Linked DNA regions of Homo sapiens. The protein of the gene in region 2 interacts with the protein of the main gene of each other region in a pairwise test. Each region holds a gene or a part of one and is shown on either strand. Other genes may lie near its edges. The genes, in order: ZNF114, CENATAC, NDOR1 and PPIL3.

Region 1 (7,730 bases), on a different chromosome or scaffold from region 2:
GCTCACGCCTGTAATCCCAGCCCTTTGGGAGGCCGAGGCGGGCAGATCACGAGGTCAGGAGCTCGAGACCATCCTGGCTAACGCGGTGAAACCCCGTCTCTACTAAAAATACAAAAAATTAGCCGGGCGCGGTGGCGGGCGCCTGTAGTCCCAGCTACTTGAGAGGCTGAGGCAGGAGAATGGCGTGAACCCGGGAGGCGGAGCTTGCAGTGAGCAGAGATCGCGCCACAGCGCTCCAGCCTGGGTGACAGAGCGAGACTCCCTCTCAAAAAAAAAAAAAAAAAAAAAGCTCTTTCTCGTAAGAAACCAGTGCATCCTGCACGTCTGGCCCTGCCCAGGACTTTTCAGTTCACCCTCATCACAACAGGCTCCAATCCAATACTTTTTTTTTTTTTTTTTTTTTTTTTGAGAGAGAGTCTTGCTCTGTCGCCCAGGCTAGAGTGCAGTGGCACGATCTCGGCTCACTGCAACCTTCACCTCCCAGGTAGAAGCGATTCTCCTGCCTCAGCCTCCCAAGTAGCTAGGATTACAGGCGCTCGGCTCACTGCAATCTCCACCTCCCAGGTTCAAGCGATTCTCCTGCCTCAGCCTCCCGTGTAGCTAGGATCACAGGCGCCCGCCACCATGCCCGGCTAATTATTATTATTATTATTATTTATTTTTTTTTTTGAGACAGAGTCTCCCTCTGTCGCCCAGGCTGGAGTGCAATGGCTCGATTTCGGCTCACTGCAACCTCCACCTCCCGGGTTCAAGCGATTCTACTGCCTCAGCCTCCTGAGTAGCTGGGATTACAGGCGCATGCCACCACGGCCAGCTAATTTTGGTATTTTTAGTGGAGATGGGGGTTTCACCATGTTGGCCAGGCTGGTCTCGAACTCCTGACCTCAGGTGATCCGCCCACCTCGGCCTTCGAAAATGCTGGGATTACAGGCGTGAGCCACCGCGCCCGGCCAGCTCCAATACTTTCATGGATGCAAAGAACACAACCCCTGCAACCGCTGCATGCGGGCATCTCTGCTGCCCAAGCCCGGGGACAGGCGCTTTCGCAACGCTGCAGCACGGTATGGGGGAAGCGCCCTTCTCCCTGGGCCAAGGTGAAGGGCGCGCTCGGGGTCTGAACACGTGGGTCATTCGTGCCTTCCCCTTTCCTCCCGGAAGGGTAGAGACAATGAGGCTTTTGCAGACAGCAACTCTCAAGTCCCTGGGCCCCGGCCCGGTCCCGCCCTTAGTACGGACACTCAGGCACACTTACTCTTCCACTAGCTCCGGCTTCCAGATGTCTCTGTCGGTGGCGCAGCCCAAAAGCGCGCGCAGCCCAGGAGCGTCTCGGAGCTGCACCAGGATGGGGATCAAACTGTTGAAATAAATCAACCTAACGAGGCCGCCAGGAAGGACCGACTACAGAGATTCGTCCTGCCCAGACATTTTGTACTCGCTTCTTGACCCCTTCCTCAAAATGGACGGTGTAAGGGACCAGGGGGAGGAGAGGGGAGCCGAGCAGGCAGGGGATCCCAGCGCCCGCACTCCTGCCTGCCCACCCCCGTCCCACCCCCCGCCCCCGGGACCCGATCGACCCGACCCCAGAGTCTGACCCCCACGACCAGTAGATTGACATTTCCTGTAGAACTTACTCCCCAGGCACTCCTGATCCAAGCAGGAAACCCCAGCCTTGGGTCCTCGCTGTCGCCTCCGCCCGCGCCACCGTTCCTAGGCTCTCCAGCTGGGAAGCGCGCTCTCTGCGCAGCCAACGCGCCTCCTTGCGGGCTCCGGAGACTCCGGCCGCTTGCTGGCTTCCTGCATTTCCCAAGGAAAGAAGGCTTTTTTTTCCCCTCAGTACTGTAAAAGGGCGGAAACAGACAGGTTGGGGAGTCTCCAGTTTCTCTCTTGTCCCCATTTTTATGTTTTTGCTACCACTCCCCCCCATCCGTTGACTAGCGGCTAAACCGCAAGGCTCCCGTCGCCTACCCTTGAAATGATTTTTTTCTTCCTTCCTTCCTTTCTTTTCTTTCTTTCTTTTTTTTTTTTGAGACGGAGTCTCGCTCTGTCGCCCAGGCTGGAGTGCAGTGGCGCGATCTCGGTTCACTGCAACCTCCGCCTCCCGGGTTCATGCCATTCTCTCGCCTCAGCCTCCGAGTAGCTGGGACTACAGGCGCCCGCCACCACCCTGGCTAAGTTTTTGTATTTTTAGTAAAGACAGGGTTTCAGCGATCTCCTGACCTCGTGATCCGCCCGCCTCGGCCTCCCAAAGTGCTGAGATTACAGGCGTGAGCCACCGCGCCCGGCCCTTCTTTTCTTTTCTTTCTTTCTTTCTTTCTTTCTCTTTTTTCTCTTTTCTTTCTTTCCCTTTTTTCTCTTTCTTTCTTCTCTTTCTTTCTTTTCCTCTCCCTCCCTCCTTCCTTCCTTTTTTCTCTTTCTTTCTTCTTTTTCTTTCTCTCTCTCCCTTCCTCCTTTTCTCCCTCCCTCCCTTCCTCCCTCCCTTCTTTCTTCTCTTTCTTTCTTTCTTCTTTCTTTTTTCTTTCTCTTTCTTCCCTCCCTCCCTTCTTTCCTTTCTCTCTCTCCCTCCCTTTCTCTTTCTTTCTTTCTTTCCTTCCTTCCCCCCTTCCTCTCTCCCTCTCTGCCCCTCCCTCCCTCCCTTCCTTCCTTTTTTATTTTTTTCCTTTTCTTATTCTTTTTTTCTTTTTTTTTTTCTGAGACAAGTTCTTGCTCTGTCCTTCAGGCTGGAGTGCAGTGGCGCAATCTTGGCTCACTGCAGCCTCAAGCGATCCTACCACTTCAGTCTCCCAAGTAGCTGGGACCACAGGCACGTACAAGGCATGCCTGGCTAATTTTAATTTTTTTTTTTTTTAGAGATGAAAACTCACTATGCTGCCCAGACTCGTCTCGAACTCCTGGGTGTCACGCGTGTCCGTATAGAAGACCACCTAAACAGGCTTTGTGTAAGCAACAAAGGCTGTTTATTCACTTGGGTGCAAGTGGGCTGAGTTGGAAAAGAGAGTCAGCGAAGGGAGATAGGAGAGGGGCAGCTTTATAGGGCTGGGGTAGGCAGTGGAAAGTTACAGTTAAAGGTGGTTATTTGTTGTCAGCAGGGGAGGGGCTCACAAGGTGCATTGTGGAGAGATCATGGGACTCATTGTCCAGGAGAAGAATGTCACAGGGTCGACTGATCAGTTGGGGCAGGGCAGGAACAAGTCATAATGGTGGAATGTCATAAGGTGGGTTAATCAGTTAAGGCAGGAACTGGCTGTTTCACTTCTTTTGTGGTTTTTCGGCTGCTCCAGACTTCTTGGCTCCTGCAGGCCATCTGGACGTATATGTGTAGGTCACAGGGGTTACAATGGCTGAGCTTCGGCTCAGAGGCCTGACACTGGGCTTAAAGTGATCCTCTGGCCTTGGGAGGCTGAGGTGGGCAGATCACCTGAGGCGAGGAGTTCAAGGCCAACATGGCGAAACCCTGTCTCTACTAAAAATACAAAAACGAGCTGGGCATGGTGGTGCATACCTGTAATCCCAGCTGCTCGGGAGGCTGAGGCAGGAGAATCGTTTGAACCTGGGAGGAGGAGGTTGCAGTGAGCTGAGATAGCGCCATTGCACTCCAGCCTGGGTGACAGAGCAAGACTCCGTTTCAAAACAAACAAAACAAAACAAAACCCAAAATGACTGCCTAAACCCAGACCTCTAGGACACAGACTCAGTTTCCCACCCTGACTCTGCTTAACTGGGGAGTCGCTTGATCTTCAGGTGCCCCTGATGCAAATCAGCTGAACAAAGCGTTTATCCTCTACTCGAGTTACATCGTTTCTTTTCCTTTGAGGGTCCCCAGCAAACCTTGATGTGCATCTCTTTTTCTTTTGGTTCTTTGGGAGGAAAGATTAAGCCCAGCCCAGCCAGCTCCTGGAGCTCCCCAGGAAGGAAGGGCTGGGAGTCCCTATCTGGTCAATTAAATAATTTATTTATTTATTTATTTTGAGACGGAGTTTCGCTCTTGTTGCCCAGGCTGGAGTGCGATGGCGCAATCTCAGCTCACCACAACCTCTGCCTCCCGGGTTCAAGCAATTCTCCCACCTCAGCCTCCCGAGTAGCTGGGATTACAGGCACACGTCACCATGCCTGGCTAAGTTTTGTGTCTTTAGTAGAGACGGGGTTTCTCCATGTTGGTCAGGCTGGCCTCGAACTCGCAACCTCAGGTGATCCACCTGCCTCGGCCTCCCGAAGTGCTGGGATTACAGGCATGAGCCACTGCACCCCGGCCTAAATAATTTATTTTTTATGGACTGTCTTTCTTCACTCTAGTAATGAAATTCTACCATAAAGCTTAAATTGCCAAATATTGATCATACTTACCCCAGTTACATTTTTTTACGGTGATAAAATATACATCACAAACATTTCCATGTGAACCATTTTTTTTTTTTTTTTTGTGACGGACTCTCCCTCTGTCACCCAGGCTGAGGTGCAGTGGCACGATCTTGGCTCACTGCAAGCTCTGCCTCCCGGGTTCACGCCATTCTCCTGCCTCAGCCTCCTGAGTAGCTGGGACTACAGGCATCTGCCACGCCCAGCTATTTTTTTTGTATTTTTAGTAGAGATGGGGTTTCACCATGTTAGCCAGGATGGTCTCGATCTCCTGACCTCGTGATCCACCCACCTCGGCCTCCCAAAGTGCTGGGATTACAGACATGAGCCACCGTGCCCGGCCTCCATGTGAACCATTTTAAAGTGTACACTTCAGTGGCATTAAGTACAGCCACATCGCTGTGTAACCATCATCACGATTCATCTCCAGAACTTTGTCATCTTTCCCAATTAAAACTCCGTACCCGTTAAATAATCACACCCCATTCCCTTTTTCTCTCAGTCCCTGGTAAGCTCTGTTCTACTTTCTGTGTCCAGGAATTTGACTGTTCTAGGAATCTCCTAGAAGTGGAATCACTCGGCCTTTGCCTTTTTGTGTCTGACGTATTTAATTTTGCACAATGTTTTCCAAGTTCACCTACGGTGAAGCATGTATCAGTATTTCATTCCTTTTAAAGTCTGAAAAGTATTCCACGGTATGTAGTGTTCAAAAGTAAAATGTATGGCTGGGCATGGTGGCTCACACCTGTAATCCCAGCACTTTGGGAAGCTGAGGCGGGCGGATCACCTGCGGTCAGGAGTTCAACACCAGCCTGGCCAACATGGTGAAACCCCGTCTCTACTAAAAATACAAAAATGAGCCAGGCATGGTAGTGCATGCCTGTAGTCCCAGGTACTCGGGAGGCTGAGGCGGGAGAATTGTTTGAACCTGACGGGGAGAGGTTGCAGTGAGCCGAGATCGTGCCACTGCACTCCAGCCTGGGCAACAGAGTGAGACTCTGTCTCAAAAAAAAAAAAAAAAAAAAAAAAGTACAATGTGACATAAGAAAATTTCTGACCTCGGGCTGGGGGCGTTGGCTCACACCTGTAATCTCAGCACTTTGGGAGGCTGAGGTGGGCGGATCACCTGAGGTCAGGAGTTCAAGACCAGCCTGACCAAAATGGAGATACCCCGTCTCTACTAAAAATACAAAATTAGCCGGGCGTGGTGGCGCATGCCTGTAATTCCAGCTACTCGGGAGGCTGAGGCAGGAGAATCGCTTGAACCTGGGAGGCGGAGGTTGCGGTGAGCCGAGTGTGCCATTGCACTCCAGCCTGGGCAACAAGAGCGGAACTCCATAAAAAAAAAAAAGAAAATTTCTGACCTCTTCCCCAAATAAACTACCTGCACGTAAGCCCTCATTTCAGGCTCTCCTTTTTGGAGGCTCCCAAATTATGACCGAAGGAGTCCAAGGACTTGAGAAGAACCCTGTTAAACCTTGGTTCAGGTCTGGGCTCAGGGCACTAAAGGATATTCCTCTTGCGACCTCTAGTGGTTGTAGGTGTCCAATTCCCTTCTATTTTCTCTGGGTCTTCATCTCCAGCAGTGCTTCCCTTCCCTTGTTTTCTCATCCTCTCCCTTCAAAAACCTGCTTCTTGGCCAGGGGCGGTGGCTCACGCCTGTAATCCCAGCACTTTGGGAGCCTGAGGCGGGCGGATCACGAGATCAGGAGTTCGAGACCAGCTTGGCCAACATGGTGAAACCCAGTCTCTACTAAAAATACAAAAATTAGCTGGGTGTGGTGGACGCCTGTAATCCCAGCTACTTGGGAGGCTGAGGCAGGAGAATCGCTGGAAGCCAGGAGGCGGAGGTTGCAGTGAGCCAAGATTGCGCCACTGCACTCCAGCCTGGGTGACAGAGCGAGACTCTGTCTCAAAAAAAAAAAAAAAAAAAAAACCCACAAAAAACCACAAAAAAACCTGCTTCTTTTCTGGTATCCTCAATATCCCGTTTCACCTATGCCTTCACTGCTAGGTGGATCTTTTTAAAGAAAATTGGGAACATTATATTATTTCACCTGTAAAAATATCACTACGATGGCCAGGTACAGTGGTTCATGCTTTGAGAGGCCGAAGTGGGTGGATTGCCTGAGCTCAGGAGTTCGAGACCACCCTGGGCAAAATGGCAAAACCCTGTCTCTAAAAAAAAAAAAAAAAAAATTAGTCAGGCGTGTGGTGCACGTAGTCCCAGCTACTTCAGCTACTTGGGAGGCTGAGGCGGGAGGATCACTTGAGCTCAGGAGGTGGAGGTTGTAGTGAGCTGAGATCTTGCCACTGCACTCCACTCTGGGTGACAGAGTGAGACTCTGTATCAATAAATAAAAAATAAAAAATAAAAATATCACTATGTATGTTTAAAAGATGAAGAGTTAAAAAATGCTTTACTGTCTTACATGAATACTCCCTTACAATGAAAAGTAATCATCATTCAGGACATCATAAAATATCCCGTTAATGTTGTCATTTCCCTGGTTCTTATTTTTACTTTATTGCTTTGCATAGAGATACAAATCATCCACTATAATAGGTTTTTGTGTGTGTGTGTTAATTCTTTGTTAATCTAAGTTGCCACTTATTTAATTCCATCCCCCCATTCAAACATTGCTATTGTTGTAGAAAGTAGGTCATTTTTTCTGTAAAATTTTCTTTGGTTTCAGTTTTGCCAATTAGATCCTTGTGTTGTCATTTAACATGTTTTTCTTTCTTTCTTTCTTTCTTTTTTGAGACGGAGTTTCGCTCCTGTTGCCTAGGTTGGAGTGCAATGGCGTGATCTCGGCAAACTGCAACCTCCGCCTCCTGGGTTCACACCATTCTCCTGCCTCAGCCTCCCGAGTAGCTGGGATTACAGGTGCCCACCACCAGGCCCTGCTAATTTTTTTTGTATTTTCAGTAGAGACGTGGTTTCACCATACTGGCCAGGGTGATCTCGAACTCCTGACCTCAGGTGATCTGCCCGCCTCAGCGTCCCAAAGTGCTGGGATTACCAGCGTGAGCCACTGTGCCCGGCCTTGGTTGCCTGTTTTTATGGTTATTTCTTCATGATATGGTAACCAAGGGGTGGATTATTCATGCCTTCCCTTTTTGGTCCACATAGGGTAACTTCCTGACGTTGCCATGGCATCTGTAAACTGTGATGGAGCTGGTGGGAGTGTAGCAATGAGGACCACCAGAGGTCACTCTCGTCGCCATCCTGGTTTTGGTGGGTTTTGGCCGGCTCCTTTACTGCAACCTGTTTTATCAGCAAGGTCTTTATGACCTGTATCTTGTGCCGACCTCCTATCTCATCCTGTGACTTAGAATGCCTTCATCATTTGGGAATGCAGCCCGGTAGGTCTCAG
Region 2 (7,022 bases):
AACCATTTTTGAGTGTGAAGATTTAGACGATCCTCTCTTGAATTAGTTTACTTACTTTCTTTAAGAAATTCTTCATAGGATGGTCCTATTTCTTGGTTCCCAGCAATGTATTCTTCATCTTGGATCATCCAGGGAGGTGTGGCACCTGAAAAAAAAATTAAGGCTTTTTTTTTTTTTTTTAAGTCTTCAGGCTATTGTGAAACATGTCCTAGCTGTTAGCTTACCTCTCCTCATTAAGAGCTAGAAATGTCTAAAAGCAAAGCCCAGGAATTCTGGAGCTTTAGAAGGCCCTAGGCTAATTTAAAGCGACATACCCCATATGTGACAGTCATTTTAAAATGGCTTTGAGGCACAACTGACATAAACGATACACACTTAAATTTGGTGACTTTTGAGCGAAGCCATTACAATCTAGACCCCAAACATCCCCCTGTAAGTATCACTGCCCCCATTAAAATATTTTCATGTCCAGGCAATCGGTGATCTTTCAGTTGCTTTATTGGTTTGTATTTTTTAGGATTTTCTGTGTGTGGACATTGAGGTGGGGTCTGGCCTTTTGTTTTTTTGAGAGGAGTCTCGCTCTAGCCCAGGCTGGACACAATCTCAGCTCACTGCAACCTCCGCCTCCCAGGTCTCGGTTCAAACAATTCTGCCTCAGCCTCCCAAGTAGCTGGGATTACAGGCGTGCGCTGCGATGCCCAGCTAATTTTTGAATTTTTAGTAGAGATGGGGTTTCACCATGTTGGCCAAACTGGTCTTGAACTCCTGACCTCGTGATCCGCCTGCCTTGGCCTCCCAAAGTGTCGGGATTACAGGCATGAGCCACCACGCCGGCCAGGTCTGGACTTCTGAGATTCATCTGTGTCGTACGTATCAATAATTCTGTCTTCATCCTGGAATACTATTCCATTGTTAATCCATTTGCCTGTTGATAGACATCTGAATTGTTTCCAATTTGGAGCTGCTACAAGTGAAGCTGTTCTGAAGATTTGTGTACAAGTCTATGTAGACAGGCTTTCTTTTCTCTAGTTAGGGGTGGAACGGTTGGATAATGTGGTAGGTGTATCCCAAACTGTTTTCCAAAGTGACTGTACCAGTTTACATTCTAAGAGCAGTGTATGAAGGTTTGGTTTTTCTACACTGCCAAACACTTGGCATGATCAGTCTTTAATTTCTGCCATTCCAATACATATGTAGTGGTATTTCACTGTGGTTTTAATTTGCATTTCTCTAATGACTAATGTTGAACATTATTCATATGCTTTTATTGGGTTGTTTCCTTATCAAGTTGACAGTTCTTCATATATTCTGGATATAAGGCTTTTACCGATACATACGCTTTATCTTGGCCAACTTTATTTAAAAAAAAAAAAAAAGTCCGGGCACGGTGGCTCATGCCTGTAATCCCAGCACTTTGGGAGGCCGAGGCGGGTGGATCACGAGGTCAGGAGATCGAGACCATCCCGGCTAAAACGGTGAAACCCCGTCTCTACTGAAAATACAAAAAATTAGCTGGGCGTAGTGGCGGGCGCCTGTAGTCCCAGCTACTTGGGAGGCTGAGGCAGGAGAATGGCGTGAACCCGGGAGGCGGAGCTTGCAGTGAGCCGAGATCCCGCCACTGCACTCCAGCCTGGGCGACAGAGCGAGACTCCGTCTCAAAAAAAAAAAAAAAAAAATTAGCTGGGTGTGGTGGTGCACACCTGTAACCCCAGCTACTTGGGAGGCTGAGGCAGAAGAATCACTTGAACCTGAGAGGCAGAGGTTGCAGCGAGCTGAGATTGCGCCACTGCACTCCAGCCTGGCGACAGAACAAGACTCCATCTCAAAAAAAAAAAAAAATCTCCCAGGGTTTTAAAAACACTGCCCTGGACCTTACCTGAGTGGATGTTACCAACTCCTGGTATATCCTGTAGTTGGAAATGGGAAAAAAAGTGCTAGTTAAAGTCTAGGCATGATTAAAAAAAAAAATCCTAGAAACGATAGACAAAGCACACTTTAAAAGAGGTGGGTGTGACTGCTGCCACAATGCTAATTCTGCACCCCAGCTGATGTTAAACTTTGAAAGCACAGTAAGTCACTCTAAGACAACCCTGTCCTCAGGAAGCTCACAGTCATAACAGTGGAGATGTCTGTAAGTAGAGTGGCTATTACATGCCAGGGGAGCAAAACCTTGCCCTCACAGCATACATATAATTGGGGAAGAGCATTAAGCACAAGTTACGTAAATTACATTTGCAACTTTACATGGTGCTACATCCACTTGAAATAGAGATAACCTGTTCAGATAAGCCTTTTATGAAAAAGTGACATTTGAGCTAACAGTTGAAGGTAAACTAGGTGATGAGGGAAGGAAAGCAGGTTTTAGACAATGGCAACTGCAAAAGCCCGAAGCAACACAATACAGCTGAAGTGTAGAGTAAAATCATAAGTGGTACAATGATTTTCTGTTTGTGAGGCAGGATTGAAGGGGGAGTAGAAATTGCCCAAAGGCTGAATGGAGGCAGACAGGTTAAAATTGACCGCTTGTTGACAGGATATGGGAGATGGAAAAGGAAAGGATCTGCATCTAGTGATTGGAAATATAGGAGTGGTGGGGGTTAGTTTCAGATGCCTGTGGGATATTTAATGTCCTGTGTTGAGTTGGAACTATGAGTTCTACAGAGGGCAAGATTTAGGAGTTGGCACTCCTAAGTGTCAATACATGTGAATAGGATCGCTTTGGAGGGTGAGAAGAGGTCTGAGAACACTACTAGGGAACAGTGAAGGAAGAAGGAAAAGCCTGCAGTGGAGGCAGCAGTGGCTTGAATAGGTAGAAAATCAGGAGAAAGGGGTCCTGAGACCTGAGGGACCATTGGCCCTCTTCTGGCTTGCTTATCCTTTGTACCTGATGGCCAATGAATGTCAGAGATGGTCCTGTCTCCATCCAGTCAAGCTCTGGAGCTGGTGGCAGGTCCAAATTTGAGGGCTGCTGTAAGCTGGAAGCTACTTGGCTGAAAAACATGAGCCAGGCTGCCAGATGAGGTCCTTGAGCCATGAGGGTGGTAAAGATTAGATCTGTTTCCATTTCCCAGGCAAAAGGTTGCAGAATGTTCTAAGATGTCAAATTCCCAACAAGAGATTCCCTAATAGTCTTACCTGTTCATCCCTTTCCAGCTTCTAGGTGCTGAAGAGCCCTCTTCTGGGTCTGGCACTGCCTGAGGCTGAGTTTGATTCAGGAAAAATAAATGTGTCTGGGATGCTTAAGAGCCTGCCTAGGCCATGCCTCCACCCTCCAGACCCCAGTATCACAGGAAGGAAACAAATTAGCATATGGAAGGTACTGCCCATCTTTTACAGACTCTTCCCTCCCTCCCTCCCAGTCCTGTCCACATATTCACTGACTAGGCCTGCCCCCTGGCACACAGGTAAGGGAATTCAAGCCAAGCAGATGAGAATGCAGTCAGAGTTCTCTTAGAAGCACTGGTTCATGGCCGGGCACAGTGGCTCATGCTTGTAATTCCAGCAGGCTGAGGCGGGTGGATCACCTGAGGTCAGGAGTTCAAGACCAGCCTGGCCAACATGGTGAAACACCACCTCTATTAAAAATATAAAAATTAGCCAGGCGTGGTGGCGGCACCTGTAATCCCAGCTACTCGGGAGCCTGAGGCAGGAGAATCGCTTGAACCTGAACCTGGGAGGTGGAGGTTGCAGTGAGCCGAGATCGTGCCACTGCACTCCAGCCTGGGTGACACAGCGAAACTCTGTCTCCAAAAAAAAAAGAAGAAGAAGAAGCACTAGTCCATGAAATGCTGGACCTGGGAATGCCAGGGATCAGTGGATTTGGATACTGGTCTGGATCCTCCGAGGGAAACCAACCTCTAAGACAGACCGAACCACCTCCTGTCGGCTCTGCTCCACCTCACGGATCTGAGCTGCCATCTGTGGGAGAGAGGCTGCTTAGACAGGTACAGGATCATGGGGGCCAGTTTCTTCAGAGGCCTTTCCTTTAACTTGGGCCCTCCACCCCCAGGCGTGGACCAGTACTGGTCTGTGGCCTGTCAGGAAGCAGGCTGCAACAGCACTGCCGCCTGAGCTCCTGTCAGATCAGTGGTGGTGTTACATTCTCATAGGAGCACAAACACTATTGTGAACTGGGCATGCAAGGTATCTAGGTTGCGTGCTCCTTATGAGAATCTAGTGCCTGATGATCTGAGGTGGAGCAGTCTCATTCTGAAACCATCCCCTGCCTGGGTCCATCTGTGGAAAAACCGTCTTCCACGAAACCAGCCCCTGGTGCAAAAAGGGTGAGGGACTGCTACTTTAACTTACCTCCTTGATCACTTTATCCTCCTTTTCTTCATAGGAATCCAAACCTTTCACCATGGATTTCTTGAATCTAAAAAGAAAAGGGGCAAAACCACCCAGAACCCATTCCCCACCAGTTAAAACGAAAAGCTCCTCAGTAGATATTTTTTTAATTTTGAGAAATTCCAAATTCAGAAACAAAACAGTATAGTAAGCACCTATGTACCTCTCACCCAGAGTCCTTGTAAACATTTTGCCATACTGGCTCCACTTCTTTTGTACAGACACACGTCCTTTTTGCCAAAACAAAATAGGTTTAGACGTCAAACCCTATTTTCAACACACATCTCCCAAGAGGAGGAACATTCTATACAACCATGATACCATTACCACATTAAGAAAATTCTTCCTTTTAGTGTTCAAATATTTGGCTGGTTAGTATAGACATGGTTTACATGTCTTCAGACTTGAGTGTAGGCATACAGGCTATATTCACATTTCCCTCGTCTCAAAAACGTGCATTATGCCTTCTCTACTCTCACCTCCAATCCCAAAGTCCAACAAAAGATCACATGGAATCCAGCTATTAGGTCTCTAGTCTTCCCCTAGTCTGGAACAGTCTTACTGTTTCCATTACTTCACATCCTCAGAAGAATCCAGGCCAAATCTTGCATACTGTCCTAAATTTCTTTGTCTTTTTTTTGAGACGGGCTCGCTCTGTTGCCTAGGCTGGAGTGCAGTGGCACAACCTCAGCTCGCTGCAACCTCTGCTCAAGAGGCTCCCAGGCTCAAGAGATCCTCCTGCCTTAGCTTCCTGAGTAGGTAGGACTACAGGACAGCACCACTATGCCTGGCTAATTTTTGTGTTTTTTGTAGAAACAGGGTTTTGCCATGTCACCCATGCTGGTCTCGAACTCCTGGGCTCAAGCAATTCTCCTGCCTTGGCCTCCCAAAGAACTGGGATTACAGGCATCAGCCACTATGCCTGGCCTTAAATCAGTAATTTGTACTGTCACCTCCCTATTCAAATGCCTCCATTCCTTACTTGTATCTTCCTTTTGCCATAGTGAAAACCCTGGTTCTCAAAACCCTGGTTCTCAACACAAAGTTTCAGTATAATACCAATACCACTATCAACAGTGTTCCCTGAGAGCCTTGAATATATCCAAGGAGACAATGGCTTGAGCCACACCTTACCGAATTGTGGCTGAAAGGCTTGTTTAATCCTCCTGGAACACGAGGGTGGAAGGTCTGCCAGAAGCTGCTATGAGGCCATCTCCCACTTCCCTCCCCATCTCCCCTAGGAGGTTGTCATCAAATGGTTTCTCATCAACTCCCAGGTTCTGATGAGGTATGGGGCTTTCTGTTCCACCCCTCTCAGATTAAAATTGCAGAATATTAAGCCACTTAGTTTTAAAAAATCATTTAAGCCAGGCGCGGTGTGGCCCACGCCTGTAATCCCAGCACTTTGGGAGGCCGAGACGGGTGGATCAAGAGGCCAGGAGTTCAAGACCAGCCTGGCCAACATAGTGAAACCCTGTCTCTACAAAAACACAAAAAATTAGCCAGATGTGGTGGCAGGTGCCTGTAATCCCAGCTACTTGGGAGGCTGAGACGAGAATTGCTTGAACCTCGGAGGTGGAGGTTGCAGTGAGCCGAGATCGGGCCACTGCACTCCAGGCCAGTGACAGAGCAAGACTCTGTCTCAAAAATAATAATAAGTTGTAGGGAAAAGAAAGAAAGATCAGACTGTCACTGTGTCTATGTAGGAAGGAAAGACATAAGAGACTCCATTTTGAAAAAGACCTGTACTTTAAACAGTTGCTTTGCTGAGATGTTGTTGATTTGTAGCTTTGTCCCAGCCACTTTGACCCAGCCACTTTGACCCAACTTGGAGCTCACAAAAACATGTGTTGTATAAAATCAAGGTTTAAGGGACCTAGGGCTGTGTAGGACGTGCCTTGTTAACAAAATACTTACAAGCAGTACATCTGGTAAAGGTCATTGCCATTCTCTAGTCTCAATAAACCAGGGGCACAATGCACTGTGGAAAGCCGCAGGGACCTCTGCCCTTGAAAGCGGGGTATTGTCCAAGGTTTCTCTCCATGTGATAGTCTGAAATATGGCCTCGTGGGATGAGAAAGACCTGACTGTCTCCCAGCCCGACACCTGTAAAGGGTCTGTGCTGAGGTGGATTAGTAAAAGAGGAAAGCCTCTTGCAGGTGAGATGGAGGAAGGCCACTATCTCCTGCTTGCCCCTGGGAACTGAATGTCTCGGCTTAAAACCCGATTGTACATTTGTTCAACTCTGAGATGGGAGAAAAGCTGCCCTGTGGCGGGAGGCGAGACATGTTTACAGTGATACTGCCTTGTAGTCTTTACTCCACTGAGATGTTTGGGTGGAGAGAAACATAAGTCTGGCCTACGTGCACGTCCAGGCATAGTACTTTCCCTTGAACTTAATCGTGATATACATTCTTTTGCTCACATGTAATTTGTTGACCTTCTCCTTATTATCACCCTGCTGTCCTACTACATTCCTTTTTGCTGAAATAATGAAAAATAATAATCAATAAAAACTGAGGGAACTCAGAGGCCGGTGCCGGTGCAGGTCCTTGGTGTGCTGAGCACCAGTCCCCTGGACCCACCGTTGTTTCTTTATACTTTGTCTCTGTGTCTTATTTCTTTTCTCCGTCTCTCATCCCACCCGACTAGAAATACCCACAGGTGTGGAGGGG
Region 3 (7,022 bases), on a different chromosome or scaffold from region 2:
TCTGGGAAGGCCAGACTCCCAGGCCGCACCCAGAGGGGCACCCGGACAGGTCCTATTGCAGGAAGGAGGTGGCATGAAGAGGATCAAAGACCTGTGCTGAGTCTGCTGGGGCCCTAGCCCAGCATTTGCATGAGCATGGGAGAGAAGGGGATATGGGCCCACGGCCCCCACCCTGGGAGCAGGGGTCACCTTGCCCAGGGTCCAGGGATGCCAGCCAGGAGGAGCAGAGGCCCCGGCGGGGCTCCTTGAGGCGAGTCTGGAACTGCACTACAGCCACGAGGATCTGCAGCCGTGAGGGGTGAGTCTGGGGAGGACGGCGGGGTGGGGGTGGTGGAACAAGGCTGCCCTCACCTGTGCCTGGGCCGTGGGCCCCACCTACCTCCCGCAGAGGCAGTCCGACTGGGGGAACGTCACCTGGTCAGAGGGCAGCCCCTGCTTACAAAACCCCACAGCCCCGGTCCCAGCTTTCCCAGGGCCGGTCCTGGGCTCCAACCACCAGGCCCCTCACCAGCAGCGAGGAGGCGATGGAGAAGGCCCTCGGCCGGATAACGGGGATGAGGTCCAACAGGTAGTCGGGAGGGATGGCGGCAGCTGTGTGCGGGAAGTCACAGAGCACCTAGGCAAAGAGAGTCTCAGGGTGGCTGCAGCGTGGCTGTAGCTCAGGGGCTGGGCCTGCCGCCCTCCCATCTCACCTCCAGGATGGTCCTGCGGGGCCGGTTGCAGTATTCAAAGAGCTCCTCCTGGCCTTGGGCAGAACTGAACTCCAGCAGCTTCTCCCGCTCCAGCTCATGGAGGGATAGACAGGCCAGGAGTTCGAAGAAGGAGCGGCGAGGCACGCTGGCGATGTCCAGGTAGTGGGACACGAGGTGCCGCATGGAGCAGGGCTGGGGCAGCCTCGTGGGGGAGGAGACATCTGCAGGGTGAGTGGGAGGCCTCCGTGGGCTGCGGCGGAGCCCTTGGGGTGGGGGCCCAGGGCACGGGAGAGGGCAGAGAGTCAGGGTGGCCGAGGCTGGGCTCACCTGGCTCCCGCGGCTGCAGCATGAAGAGCTGGTCAGGGTCCAGGCCCAGCACCTGGCAGAACCGCTGGACATGGGCAGCCGAGTTGGAGGGCTGAATCAGCACCACATCACCAGCAGCAAAGCTGTGTGGAAGAAGCCACCAGGGCTGTGGGGACGCCGCAGGGAGGATGTCGGGGCCCCGGATAGAAGTCATCCCCTGCAGCCCGGCCCAGCCTCCTCCGAACCCCAGACCCACGGCCCACCTCACCTTGCCCTCCTCGGTCCCCAGCAGTCCCCACCTGATGCCAGAGCCCAAGATGTCAAACTCAATCAGCCGAACGTCCTGGAAGTGGGAGGGGCCGGTGACTCTCTGGTTGGAGATCATGGGTGCTAGGAAGGGCTTCGACTCTGACGGGGGCTCCTGAGAGCCGGGGTGAGCTACCCGCTGCCCCTCAGAGCCCGTGCTGGGTGCCTCTTGGAGGAACAGCAGGGTGAACTTGGAGGGCAGGCTGTGGGAGGGCACGCTGGTCAGACCAGGACCCACTCCCCAGGGGCCGCCCACCCACACGGGAGGGACCCAGGGCGAGGTCCCCAGGCCAGGTTGGGTCTGCTGCGCCTGTGGGTGACCCGGGGCCCACACTCACGGGACTCCGGGAGGGATCTCAGTGAGGCCCGGAGGCGGCGGGTACAGCCCCAGAACCCTGTCCCACAAGTCTCGCAGCCAGGGGTCCACAGCAGCGTCGGGCCTGGGAGGGAGCACGTGCGCTGGCCTGAGCGGACCCTGCGTGTGGCCAGACCAGACTGTGGAGGCGGGTACCACGCCCGCAGACTCACCCCAGCTCATGCTGGTCATCGCCCAGGCACACGGGCAGGAGGGCGCTGCCCCCAAGCTGCAGTAGCCGTCGGTGCAGCTTCTTGGCCACGAAGTTGAACCTGTGGAGACAGTGAGGCTGGTCCTGGGCTGGAGCCCGGGCGGAGAGTGGTGCCCAGGCAGAGTGGAACCCGGGAGAGTGGAGCCCGGGCGAAGAGTGGAGCCTGGGGAGGGCCTCCCTCGGGTGGAAAACACACTCCACGCTGGCCGCACCCTAGGAGGGGGCAGGGCCTCCACACGCCAGGGGCTGCCGAGACCAGGGCAGCTGCCAGGGTGCCAAGCAGCAGGTCCTCTGCTCGCAGAGAATGAGCCTGTGTGGGTGGGAGCAGGCGGCCTCGTCCCACTGATGGGCCCTCATCCCTGGGCAGGGACTTGAGGCAGCTGAGGCCTCCAGGCCCCCAGCCAAGATGTGGGTCACTCCTCAGCTGAGAAACTCTGTGCTGGGGAGAGAGCCAGGCATCTTCCCGGGGGTCAGTTTCTCTTCTCACTCTGGTTCCGAGGCATGACTGGCTCTGGGTCACGCTCCTCCCTGGGAACGCTGTCGGCAGCGGCCTCCCTCCCTCTCTTGAACGAACACTGTGTCCCACACAGAACAACGTCACGCAGGAAACAACGTCATGCACGGACCTACGTCACGCACGGAACAAAACCTCCCGGCAGAACCGGGGGGAGCTGTCTCCGATCTTCCCGTTCTTTTTCATCTGAAATGACTGACACCTGGCTATGCAAACGGCTTTTGATGCTCGGTGCTCAGCGGACCTGGGCCCTACGTGGACAGTCGGGGTTTTCACCGTTGTGGGGTCTAAAGATGCCATTTGCACACTGAACATGCCACTCCTTGCTTAGGGTGCAGAGGAGCACTGTGAAAATGCCCAGGAGAAAAGGCAGAGGTGGCCTCTGGGGTGGCAGGAGCATACGGGGTCCTCCTCCAGGCTCAAAGTCGTCAACACTTCACAGCACGCCTTTTTGTAAAAGTGGGGACCGGCGCCAGGTAGGCCTGTGTGACGTCAGCGTGGCTGGAGCCCAGCCCTTTGCCACCCTGCCTGCTCCCCTCTGTGCCCTCCCCGCAGCGTGAAGCCTGGGGTGCCCACCAGGGAGCGTTGTGGAGAAGCCAGTACCACTGCGAGGGCCCTGAGGCGCGCAGGGGCCGACCCTGGAAGCTGGTCTCGGTCCTCTGCCAGCACACCTGTTGCTCGACCCCCAGAACTGTTCCGTCCGCCCACTGTCCCATCCCCTACTCACTTGGCGTATGAGGAGTCCCCGAGGCCCAGGACGGCAAAGTCCATCTGACAGAGGGCAGTGGAGGGCAGGTTCTTCCGGAATATAAACCTCCAGAAGTTCTACAGCCGGAGGAAACTCTGAGTCAGAGTCCTCGACCTCTAGGCTAGCCCCACAGCAGGGGGTGAGGGGAGGGTCTCAGGGGAACAGGCAGGTGGGTAGGATGGGGGCAGAATACAACTGGACCTATCTGACCAAAAGGCAGGGCCCAGGTCCAGCCTGCAGGATGATGGGCACCGGGAGGAGGCAGGGCTGGTCCAGCGTCTAGGGAGACCAGGTCCCACCCTGCCCACAGGAGCCAGACCCTGCTGTGCTCTACAGGCCTGCGTGGAGCTTCCTTCCTGGGACATCACCCTCCTCTGCCCCAGGCTCTGAGCTGCCAGGAGCAGCTCTGCACTTGGTCTCCAAACTGTCCACCGCCCCAGGGGTCCCTCACCTCCACCTGTCATTTCCCAGCCAGAGCGTGGGCCTCCACTCCCTGAGTTGGTCTGTCCCAGAGGCTCCTATACTCAGACCTCTGAGGTCCATCCCAAGGGCTCTCACACTCGGCCCTCTGAGGTTCCAGTGTCGCTGAGACACATCCCCCTCCTTCCGTGGCTGCAGGACCTCGAGCCAACAGGGTCCAGATCCTCTGGTTCCACACCGTGCCTTCCACGGTGTCCTCCCAGCTTGATCAGAGGCCCCCCCAAGGAACCTACTGCCCCCTCCCTACCTGGATCCCAGGTGGCCTGTGTGCGTGGTCTTCGCCGCCCACCCACCTCCCCTTCCCGTGGCCAAGCATGGAGGCTAGCAGACAGGGAGGCCCTGGCCTTGTCAGCCCACAGCTCTGACCCTGGCCCTGGACCACCCCTGGCCTCCCGGGACCTCACTGCCTCATCAGCTGCCTCTCTGGGCCACGCTATGCGAGCAAATGTACCCAGCCTCTTGCCCCCGAGACCCTCCCTAGCGCCCTGCTGTTGAGACACCCTTGCTTCCTGAATCCCAAAAGACTCTCTTCCCTGCTCCGTTTGGTGAACTTCCTCCTTCCCGAGAAAAGGGTTCTGGAGAGAACATTCTTGTGACTTTTCCCTCACTCGACTGGCATGCGGCTGGGTCTGTCCTGGGCTTGGCACCACCACTGAAAAGCCAGGGCCCCACTTGCTGCCCTTGGGGTGTGTAGGGCACTCTGTCCCCAGAGGCTAAACCCACAGTGACATGCCCCGGGGGTAGCCCTTTCATTCTCAGCAGGGCCCTTCCTGGGCATGGGGCTCTCTGGCCGCAGACCCCGCTCTAGACATCATTACTTTCCTGGATAACTTCCTCTCCACCATTGTCTTCTCATTCTGAGGCCACTGGAATTATCTTCGAATTTTGGTATCTGCTTCCTTCCATTTTCTATCTTGCTTTTTGTCATACTTTCTAGAAGGATTTCTCATCTTTTTTTGAGATGGAGTCTCACTCTGTAGCCCAGGCTGGAGTGCAATGGTGCGACCTCAGCTCACCGCAACCTCCGCCTCCCAGGTTCAAGTGATTCTCCTGCCTCAGCCTCCCAAGTAGCTGGGATTACAGGTGCGTGCCACCATGCCCGGCTAATTTTTGTATTTTTAGTAGAGACAGGGTTTCACCATGTTGGCCAAGCTGGTCTCGAACTCCTAACCTCAAGTGACCCACCCACCTCGGCCTCCCAAAGTGTTGGTATTACAGGCGTGAGCCGTCGTGCCCGGCCTTTTTTGTTGTTGAGACAGGGTCTCATTCTGTCATCCAAGCTGGAATGCAGTCTTGAAATCACAGCTCACTGCAGCCTTGACCTTCTGGGCTCAAGCGATCCTCCAACCTCAGCCTCCCAAGTAGTGGGGATTACAGGTGTGTGTCACCACGCCCAGCTAATTTATTATTATTTTGTTTGTAGAGACTGGGTTTCGTCATGTTGCCCAGGCTGGTCTCAAACTCCTGGGCTCAAGCGATCCTCCCACACCTTGGCTTCTCAAAGCGCTGGGATTCCAGGCTTGAGCCACTGTGCCCAGCGTCTTCTAATCTTTTAAAGTTTTTTCATGTCCATTTAAAGAACTATTTCTGGCCAGGTGTGGTGGCTCACACCTGCAAACCTAGCACTTTGGGAGGATGAGGCAGGCAGACTGCTTGAGCCCAGAAGCTTGAGACCCCATCTCTACAAAAAATACAAAAAAAAAAAAAAATTAGTTGCATGTGGTGGTGCGCACCTGCAGTCCCTGCTACCCAGGAGGCTGAGGTGGGAGGATCACCTGAGTCTGGAAGGTCAGGGGGCAGTGAGCCGTTGATGGCTGCCACTGCACTCCAGCCTGGGCAACAGAGCAAGAGCTCTGTCTCCAGAAAGAAAAAGAAAAAGAGAAAGAGAAAAAACTGTTTCCTGTTCCTGAGTCTCCAGCTTTGCCCCGTGGGGGTAACATCCTTGGCTGCTTCAGCCTGTGCCCGTCTCTGCCTGTTATGCGGGTCTTTCCTCGGGTGGGGTGTGGTTCTTTCTGGTGCATGTTTTCACCCAGGCTGGAGTGCAGTGGTGTGATCTCGGCTCACTGCAACCTCCACTTCCTGGGTTCAAGTGATTCTCCTGCCTCAGCCTCCTGAGTAGCTGAGATTACAGGCATGCACCAATACACCCAGCTAATTTTTTGTATTTTTAGTAGAGATGGGGTTTCGTCATGTTGGCCAGGCTGGTCTCAAACTCCTGACCTCAGGTGATCCACCCGCCTCGGCCTCCCAAAGTGTTGGGATTACAGGCTTGGGCCAGCGCGCCCAGCGCCCCATGGGTTTCTTCACCAGACAGGCAGGGACCTGGTCACTTGGCCTTTCACTGTGGTTCCTCTGTTTTCTCCTGTCTGCTGCTGGGGGCACCTGCCTCACCTACAGCATCCTCAGCAAGGAGCCAGGGTCTTCCTGTTTCGCTGTGGATGGAGAGCCAGGGTCCTCTGGTTTAGCTATGGATAGCCACTAAGACTCGCCCCTGCCTCTGAGGCCATGGGCCCTGGGTCCACAGCCTCTTCAAGGAGCTCCCAGTTCCCGCTGTGGGCATTAGCTGCCCCCTCCAACTCCTGGTCTTCTCTGTGGGTGCCCACACTTGGGACTCTTCGTTTCCTCGTTGACCTGAATCCCGGCATTAGCACCAGCTTCCTGCCACTGGCTGACTGAATGCCCAGCCCAGCCTCAGTCCCTCTCCTCTCCCATGCTCTGGGGCTTCCCTATCCCACCATTCCCCTCCCGTGCCTGTGCTCCACTCTGAAACCCCTTCTCTTCCATCCCACTCTATCTGAGACCCCTCGACCTATGTTCAGCTCTCCCCCAAGCCGCTGCACATCCCCTGCCATACCTACTCAGTCTTCAGCCTCTTTCTCCTGTCTCTCCCCTGCCAGCAATTAAACATGCCAAGTTTTGGCCGGGTGTGGTGGCTCACGCCTGTAATCCCACCACTTTGGGAGGCTGAGGCAGGTGGATCACGAGGTCAGGAGATTGAGATCATCCTGGCTAACACGGTGAAACCCGATCTCTACTAAAAAAATACAAAAAATTAGCTGGGCGTGGTGGCGGCGCCTGTAGTCCCATCTACTTGGGAGGCTGAGGCGGGAGAATGGCGCGAACCCGGGAGGCAGTGCTTGCAGTGAGCTGGGATCAACGCCACTGTACTCCAGCCTGGGCGACAGAGCGAGACTCCGTCTCAAAACAAACCAACAACAACAACAACAAACAACAACAAAAAAAACATGTCAAGTTTCTCCCGTCTTTTTTTTTTTGAGACAGGGTCTTGCTCTGTCGCCCAGGCTGGAGTGTAGTGGTGTGATCACAGCTCACTGCAGCTTTAACCTCCCAAGTTCAAGAGCTCCTCCCGCCTCAGCCTCTGGAGTAACTGTGATCACAGGCATGAGCCA
Region 4 (7,022 bases), on a different chromosome or scaffold from region 2:
AGCCCCTACCACTTCGGATGCCAGTTCCAAGTCCCGATTGTGATCTGTACTATCTGACTAACCATGATATAATTTGGGATTTTTCATGCCCCCCAGCTCTGTTCAATAATTTTCAAAAATGGCTCATAGAACTTAGGAAAGCACTTTATTTATTACTATGGGCTATTATAAAGGTTACAACTCAGGAACAACCAAATGGAGGAGATGCATAGGGCAAAGTCTGAGAGAGGGGCACAGCGCTTCCATGCTCTTCTCGGGGTGTGTTACCCTCTTAGTATCTACTTGTGTTCACCAACCTGGAAGCTCTCAAACCCTGTTTAGGGTTTTTACGGAGGGCACATTAGGTAGGCACGATTAATTAAATCACTGGCCACTAGTGACTGGAACTCAATCTCCAGCCCTTCTCTCCTTCCCAGAGGTCAAGAATAGGAGGTCACTGAATGTTCCACCCCTCTAAAAATACATGGCTGATTCCTCTGGCAACCAGCCCTCCATACTGAAGCTATCTAGAACCCCACCAAGAGTCACCTCATTAGCATAAACTCAGGTATGGTTGAATGGGGTTTATTATGAACAATAAAATATTCCTTTCACTCCTGTCACTCAGGAAATTGCAAGGTTTTTAAAAGAACTATGCTGGAAACCACGGATGAAGTCCAAATATGTATGTCTTATTACAACACACTAGTCATAAAGATTTCTTTGCTACAGGAAATACATGGAGAAAGTATGTAGATGACACTATTAGCAATACTGCCCTACAATGAGAGTCCTAAAGTAGGTGACCACTCCACTTTGTACTTGTTTTTTTTTTTTTTGAGATGAAGTCTCGCTCTGGTCCCCCAGACTGGAGTGCAATGGTGTGATCTCGGCTCACTGCAACCTCTCCTCCTGGGTTCAAGCAATTCTCCTGCCTCAGCCTCCCAAGTAGCTGGGATTATAGGAGCCTACCACCACGCCTGGCTAATTTTTGTATTTTTAGTAGAGACGGAGTTTCAGCATGTTGGCCAGGCTGGTCTGGCCTGACCTCAGGTGATCCGCCCGCCTTGGCCTCCCAAAGTGTTGGGATTCAGGCATGAGCCACCAAGCCCAGCAGTTAATTGTTTAATTATAGTATTTCTTTCTTTTTTTTTTTTTTTGAGATGGAGTCTCACTTCCATTGCCCAGGTTGGAGTGCAGTAGCACTATCTCGACTCATTGTAGCCTCTTCCTTCAGGTTCAAGCAATTCTGCATCAGCCTCCCAAGCAGCTGGGACTACAGGCACATGCCCCCATGCCCAGCTAATTTTTGTGTTTTTAGTAGAGATGGGATTTCACCACATTGGCCAGGCTGGTCTCAAACTCTTGACCTCAAGTGATCTGCCCACGTCAGCCTCCCAAAGTGCTGGGGTTATAGGCATGAGCCACCACGTCTGGCCTAATTATGGCATTTCTACTTTTTGCTTCTGGATAACAACAAGAAGTAATAAAAATAGGAGAAGAGAAGACTGACAGTTAACAGCCTCCAGCAATCCCACTTCATGTTACCACCAAGAAAAAATATATTGAGAGCTATTCTTCAAATACAAGTTTTGGAAATTTCAGTCTAAAACATTTGCTAAGAAAGAGTGGCTTTTGATCTCTTGACCTCGTGATCTGCCCGCCTTGGCCTCCCAAAGTGCTAGGATTACAAGCGTGAGTCACTGCACCTGGTCATCTGACTGCATTTTGACTGCAACCCGTCACATGAGGTCAGATGTGGAATTTTCTACTTGTGGCATCATGTCAGTGCTCAAAAAGTTCCTAATTTTTAATTTTCAGATTAGGGATTCTCAACCACTGGTATGTACTTTAAAAAATTAACAGATTTGTAGGCCTGGCGCAGTGGCTCACGCCTGTAATCTCAGCACTTTGGGAGGCCAAGGCGGGCGGATCACGAGGTCGGGAGATTGAGACCATCCTGGCTAACATGGTGAAACCCCGTCTCTACTAAAAATACAAAAAATTAGCCGGGCGCGGTGGCGGGCGCCTGTAGTCCCAGCTACTTGGGAGGCTGAGGCAGGAGAATGGCGTGAACCCAGGAGGGTGAGCTTGCAGTGAGCTGAGATGGCGCCACTGCATTCCAGCCTGGGCGACAGAGTGAGACTCTGTCTCAAAAAAAAAAAAAAAAAAAAATTAGCAGATTTGCATTTTATTTTGCATTTTCACAAAATGGGTACTTCAACCAAAACATTTTGATTTTACCCCTAAATATAGACATTTAAGTCTTTAAATTATAAGTCTTAAAGGCTATCCCACCTTCTAGGTCAGTAAGAGAAACAGAGGAGGTAGAAAACATAGGTCTCAGGTAAAAAGTTAAAAAAACCCAGCAGGTAGAACTGAGGCAGTTAAGTAGAGTCAAGTATATGGGAAACGGACCCCTTGGAGAACTAGAGGAAAGTTACTGGATCATCTTCCCAGAAAAATGTGTGTGCATCTGTATACAACAAACAAGGAATTAATGAACCTAAGGTTAATCTTTGTTCTAAACTCTACAGTTTTGTCGCAAATCCAGTAAAATGAGTCCTGGTAATAACTGAACAATAATTTTGAATGATGTTGGTTAAGGGAGAAAATAAGAGGGAAACTGGGTTATTTACAAACATAAAAAAACTACTAGATGTTGTAATATTTCTTTTCTCCTTGATTATTATTAATGTGTAAATTAGATACATGTATATGGAATGAAAAAGAAAAGATCTGTCTAGATCTCACTGCAGCCTTGACACCCTGAGCCCAGCAATCCTCTCACTTCAGCCTCCCAAGTAGCTGGGACCATAGGTGTGAGCCACCACACCTGGATAATTTTTAAATTTTTTTGTAGAGACGGGGTTTCACTATGTTACCTAGACTGGGAGTCCTCTATTTTTAATTAACCTAATTTGGCATCCAAACTATTAAATAGAACAAACTCTAGAATTGTGCCTTGGTTTATTAAGCATGATAATTATTTGTTGAACGAACAGACAAATTGACTTCCCACTGATTTATAAAAGCAACTCCCAGACATAGTACTCTTAATAGATACCCTGGCAGAAACTGTGAAATACCTTCCTAGGAGCCATTCTTCTTACTCGGAGAAATCTAATTTTAGTAAGGGTGGCAATGTGGCTGAAATACATTTTCTACCCTCCATTGTAGGTAAGGAGTGGTCACATTACTAAGTTCTGGGTCTTCTGGGAAAGTTTTTTTTTTTTGAGACGGAGTCTCGCTTTGTCACCAGGCTGGAGTGCAGTGGCGCAATCTTGGCTCACTGCAATCTCCACCTCCAGGGTTCAAGCCATTCTCCTGCCTCAGCTTCCTGAGTAGCTGGAATTACAGGCACGCACCACCGCACCCAGCTAATTTTTGTATTTTTAGTAGAGATGGGGTTTCACCATGTTGGCCTGGATGGTCTTGATCTCCTGACCTCATGATCTGCCCTCCTTGGCCTCCCAAAGTGCTGGGATTACAGGTGTGAGCCACCGCACCCGGCTTTTCTTTTTTTCTATCTTTTTTTTTTTAGAGATAGGGTATCATTGTTGCCCAGGCTGGAGTACAGAAGTGTGATCTCAGCTCATGCAGCCTGGAACTCCTGGGCTCAAGTGATTCTCCCACCTCAGCCTCCTGAGTAGTTGGGATTACAGGTGTGTGTCACCACACTTGGCTAATTTTTAAATTTTTTTTATAGAGATGGGTTCTGCTATGTTCCACAGGCTGGTCTTGAACTCCTGGCCTCAAGTGATCCTCCTGTCTCAGCCTCCCAAAGCACTGGGATTACAGGCCTGGGAAAGTTCTGTTAATTAAAAAAGGTGAATCAGCTGGCAAGCACCTTTTGTCTTTCCTCCCCTTTCCTCCCTGATACACAGAAGTTTTGATAAGAGCTGTGCTGCCAATATTATGACAGAGGCGCCTAGAACACTGGTAACAAAATGGAACCACCATGCCAGTCCATCTTGTTTAAGCCACTATTTTTCAGATCTGTTAGTTGCTGTGAAATGCTATCATTAATGAAAATGGACCAGCCTGGGCAACATAGTGAGACCATGTCTCTAAAAAAAAAGTGTTTTTTTTGTTTTTTTTTTTTTTAAAGTAGCTGCGCATGATGGTACACATTTGTGGTTCCAGTTACTCAAGAGGCTGAGGTGAGAAGATCACTTGAGACCAGGAGGTTGAGGCTGCAATGAGCCATGACTGTGCTACTGCACCATACTCCAGCCTGGCGACAGAGCCTTTCGTCTCAAAAAAAGAAAAAGAAAAAGAAAATAGATATACTATGTTAATTTGCATAACAATATTGAAAAATTACTGGCCTCTTTTACAAAATAAGGAAAATAAAGCTCAGGGAGATTATAACTTTCCCAAGGTCACAGGGTTGCTAAGTGGTAGACTTAAACTCCAGGTACGTTTAGCTCTCACACCACTCTTCTTTTCTTTCTTTTCTTTTCATTTTTTTTTTTTTTTTTTGAGGCAGAGTCTCACTCTGTCGCCCAGGCTGGAGTGCAATGGCATGATCACGGCTCACTGTAACTTCCGCCTCCCAGGTTCAAGCAATTCTCCTGCTTCAGCCTCCTGAGTAGCTGGGACTACAGGTGTGTGCCACCACATCCAACTAATTTTTTAAAATATTTTTAGTAGAGACAGGGGTTCTGCCACATTGGCCAGGCTGGTCTCGAACTCCTGACCTCAGACAATCTGCCCACCTTGGCCTCCCAAAGTGCTGGGATTACAGGTGTGAGGCACTGCGCTCGGCCTCACTCTTTTCAATATTAGTTATGCTACTGTCACAGCTAAGCATATGCACCACTTGCATTGAAATGCTAAAAGAAAACCATAACCAGAATACTCACTTTCCAAATACGGTGTATTTCATGTCCAAATGTGGCTGTTTGCCATAGGTGATGAAGAACTGAGATCCATTGGTGTTCGGGCCATTATTAGCCATAGATACAACACCTCTAACATTGTGCTGAAAAAGACACATCAAAGTATTAACTGTGTTTTTATATAACCATCCCAAATATAGTATTGAAACAAGACAGGCACACCTTTGTTTTCTTTTTTAAAAATATTTTGAGATTGGGGTCTCACTATGTTGCTCAGGCTGGTCTCTAACTCCTAGGCTCAAGTGATCCTCCTGCCTTAGCTTCCAAAGTGTTGGGATTACAGGTGTGAATCAGCACACCCAGCCAAGACATTCAATCTTTACCTTCACAATATTTAAGGGAGCAAGAAAACATTTAACCAACTTCTCTCTATTAGGGATAATCCAAATGTTCAGTTTCTGCCTTTTCTGTACCTTTGAAAACTTGTATGTAAAAGGTTAATATATCAAATAATATTTCTCAATTAATTTCATTTTCACTTTGAAGAAATACAGCCATGGACACTTTTTGCAATACCAACAAATAATAGAAATAATCCTTACATTTATATTAAGGAATAGTGTGCTGGAATGAAATGATCAGGCAGGCAACAAAACCAAAATGCCCACAATCTCTTCTCACATACAATGGACTCTTGCTAGTTTCTTTATCTGTAAAACAAGGGAGGCTGGACTAGTTCAAGGGTCTATTTATAACTCAGATGCTCACAAGGGTCAAGCAGATAAACTGACAATTGGGCAGAATGTAAACATTAGAGAGAGATGAAGTCTGGCAAAATGAATAGGCTATCTCTTGATTAATGACATTAAATATATATTTTTTAACTAAGGGCCACAGATAATGCATCTGTGGGTGTTCCACTCATGGGCAGTCAGTTTATAACCCCAGGACTGAACGATCTAAGAAAGGTCTCACCTAGCTCTACTATCATGATAGTATTTGTTTACAAGAGACAGTGTATAGAAATTAAAAGGACCTTACTGATAAGAATGAAGATGTAACTGTGAACTATGTTACAGGGAGGTGCCTGTAATACACTACAACTCCACCAATTACTCTAGCTTTAGCTATTCATTGGGTGACGCTAATAAGTCATAGAGAAGCACCTATATCAAAATATTAATGCTTGTCTCCCTAAAAGGTGTCCACCAATCAAATGTAATATTAAATACACATGTAATATTTAATACATACACAATATTTAATACATACACAAAAATATAGTTAATAAAAATGTAAGTTAATAAAATAAGCACCCATTAACATATTTCCCAGCTTTCAGAGTTAAAATTTACCAATTCATTGAATAATGGGAGCTCAAGAAAAAATAAAAGTTACCAATTAATTACATATATCCATGTGCTCCTCTCCATTTATTACCTCAGCCTCTACAAGAGGTAACCACTATTCTAATACCTTTTTTTTTTCATTTTTTCATTTTTTTTTTTTTTTAGAGACAGGGTCTCACTCTGTCACCCAGGTTAGAGTGCAGTGGTGCAATCATAGCTCACTGTAGCCTTGACCTCCTAGGCTTGAGCAATCCTTCCACCTTGGCCTCCTGAGTAGCTGAGACTACAGATGTACACCTCCATACCTGGCTAATTTTTTAACTTTTAGTAGAGATGAGGGCTCAATATGTTGCTCAGGCTGATCTCAAACTCCTGGCCTCAAGTACTTGTTCCTCTCACCTCGGCCCCCTAAAGTGCTGGGATTATAAGAGTGAGCCACTGTGCCCAGCCCTAACACATTTACACATGCCTAAACAACACATTCTTTCCTTTTCCTTCTGAATATAATTACATCGTAACATTTTAGTCTTCTGGGAAATGCTTTCTACAAATAACATTGTTACATTTCTAAGGTTATACATGTACATATAGCCATAGTTTATTACTATTTTTTTACTACTATGTGATATTTCACTACTGAATATACTACAATTTATCCACAATCTACATAGTGATTCATCTACAATCAGTGGACATTTGGGTTGTTTCTAGACTTTTGCTATTACAAACAGTACATCAGAACACTCCTGTACATGTCTCTTGGTGCAAACTTACAAGTTTCTCTTGAGTAAACATTTGGGAATGGAATTCCTGGGCCAGAATATATGAAGAGTCAATACATATCCACAAT

Evidence for each region.
Region 1: the proteins of CENATAC (region 2) and ZNF114 interact in binary tests that used the Homo sapiens proteins (3 or more experiments, as listed by UniProt).
Region 3: the proteins of CENATAC (region 2) and NDOR1 interact in binary tests that used the Homo sapiens proteins (3 or more experiments, as listed by UniProt).
Region 4: the proteins of CENATAC (region 2) and PPIL3 interact in binary tests that used the Homo sapiens proteins (3 or more experiments, as listed by UniProt).

The regions. Positions count from the first base shown.
Region 1 is NC_000019.10:48,265,351-48,273,080, reverse strand, and holds the start of ZNF114 (zinc finger protein 114), read right to left. Parts: upstream 3,001-7,730; 5' UTR 2,862-3,000; exon of another isoform or gene 2,848-2,861; intron 2,179-2,847; exon of another isoform or gene 1,966-2,178; intron 1,861-1,965; exon of another isoform or gene 1,837-1,860; 5' UTR 1,632-1,836; intron 1,466-1,631; exon of another isoform or gene 1,355-1,465; 5' UTR 1,253-1,354; exon of another isoform or gene 1,249-1,252; intron 1-1,248. UniProt on the Homo sapiens protein: May be involved in transcriptional regulation.
Region 2 is NC_000011.10:119,008,117-119,015,138, reverse strand, and holds part of CENATAC (centrosomal AT-AC splicing factor), read right to left. Parts: intron 4,376-7,022; coding exon 4,309-4,375; intron 3,919-4,308; coding exon 3,856-3,918; exon of another isoform or gene 3,828-3,855; intron 3,201-3,827; coding exon 3,136-3,200; intron 2,991-3,135; coding exon 2,885-2,990; intron 1,908-2,884; coding exon 1,877-1,907; intron 146-1,876; coding exon 56-145; intron 1-55. UniProt on the Homo sapiens protein: Component of the minor spliceosome that promotes splicing of a specific, rare minor intron subtype. Negative regulator of centrosome duplication.
Region 3 is NC_000009.12:137,208,689-137,215,710, reverse strand, and holds part of NDOR1 (NADPH-dependent diflavin oxidoreductase 1), read right to left. Parts: intron 3,210-7,022; coding exon 3,112-3,209; intron 1,932-3,111; coding exon 1,833-1,931; intron 1,745-1,832; coding exon 1,643-1,744; intron 1,508-1,642; coding exon 1,298-1,507; intron 1,142-1,297; coding exon 1,020-1,141; intron 914-1,019; coding exon 693-913; intron 617-692; coding exon 509-616; intron 305-508; coding exon 190-304; intron 53-189; coding exon 1-52. UniProt on the Homo sapiens protein: NADPH-dependent reductase which is a central component of the cytosolic iron-sulfur (Fe-S) protein assembly (CIA) machinery.
Region 4 is NC_000002.12:200,872,072-200,879,093, forward strand, and holds part of PPIL3 (peptidyl-prolyl cis-trans isomerase-like 3), read right to left. Parts: intron 4,967-7,022; coding exon 4,848-4,966; intron 1-4,847. UniProt on the Homo sapiens protein: PPIases accelerate the folding of proteins. It catalyzes the cis-trans isomerization of proline imidic peptide bonds in oligopeptides. May be involved in pre-mRNA splicing.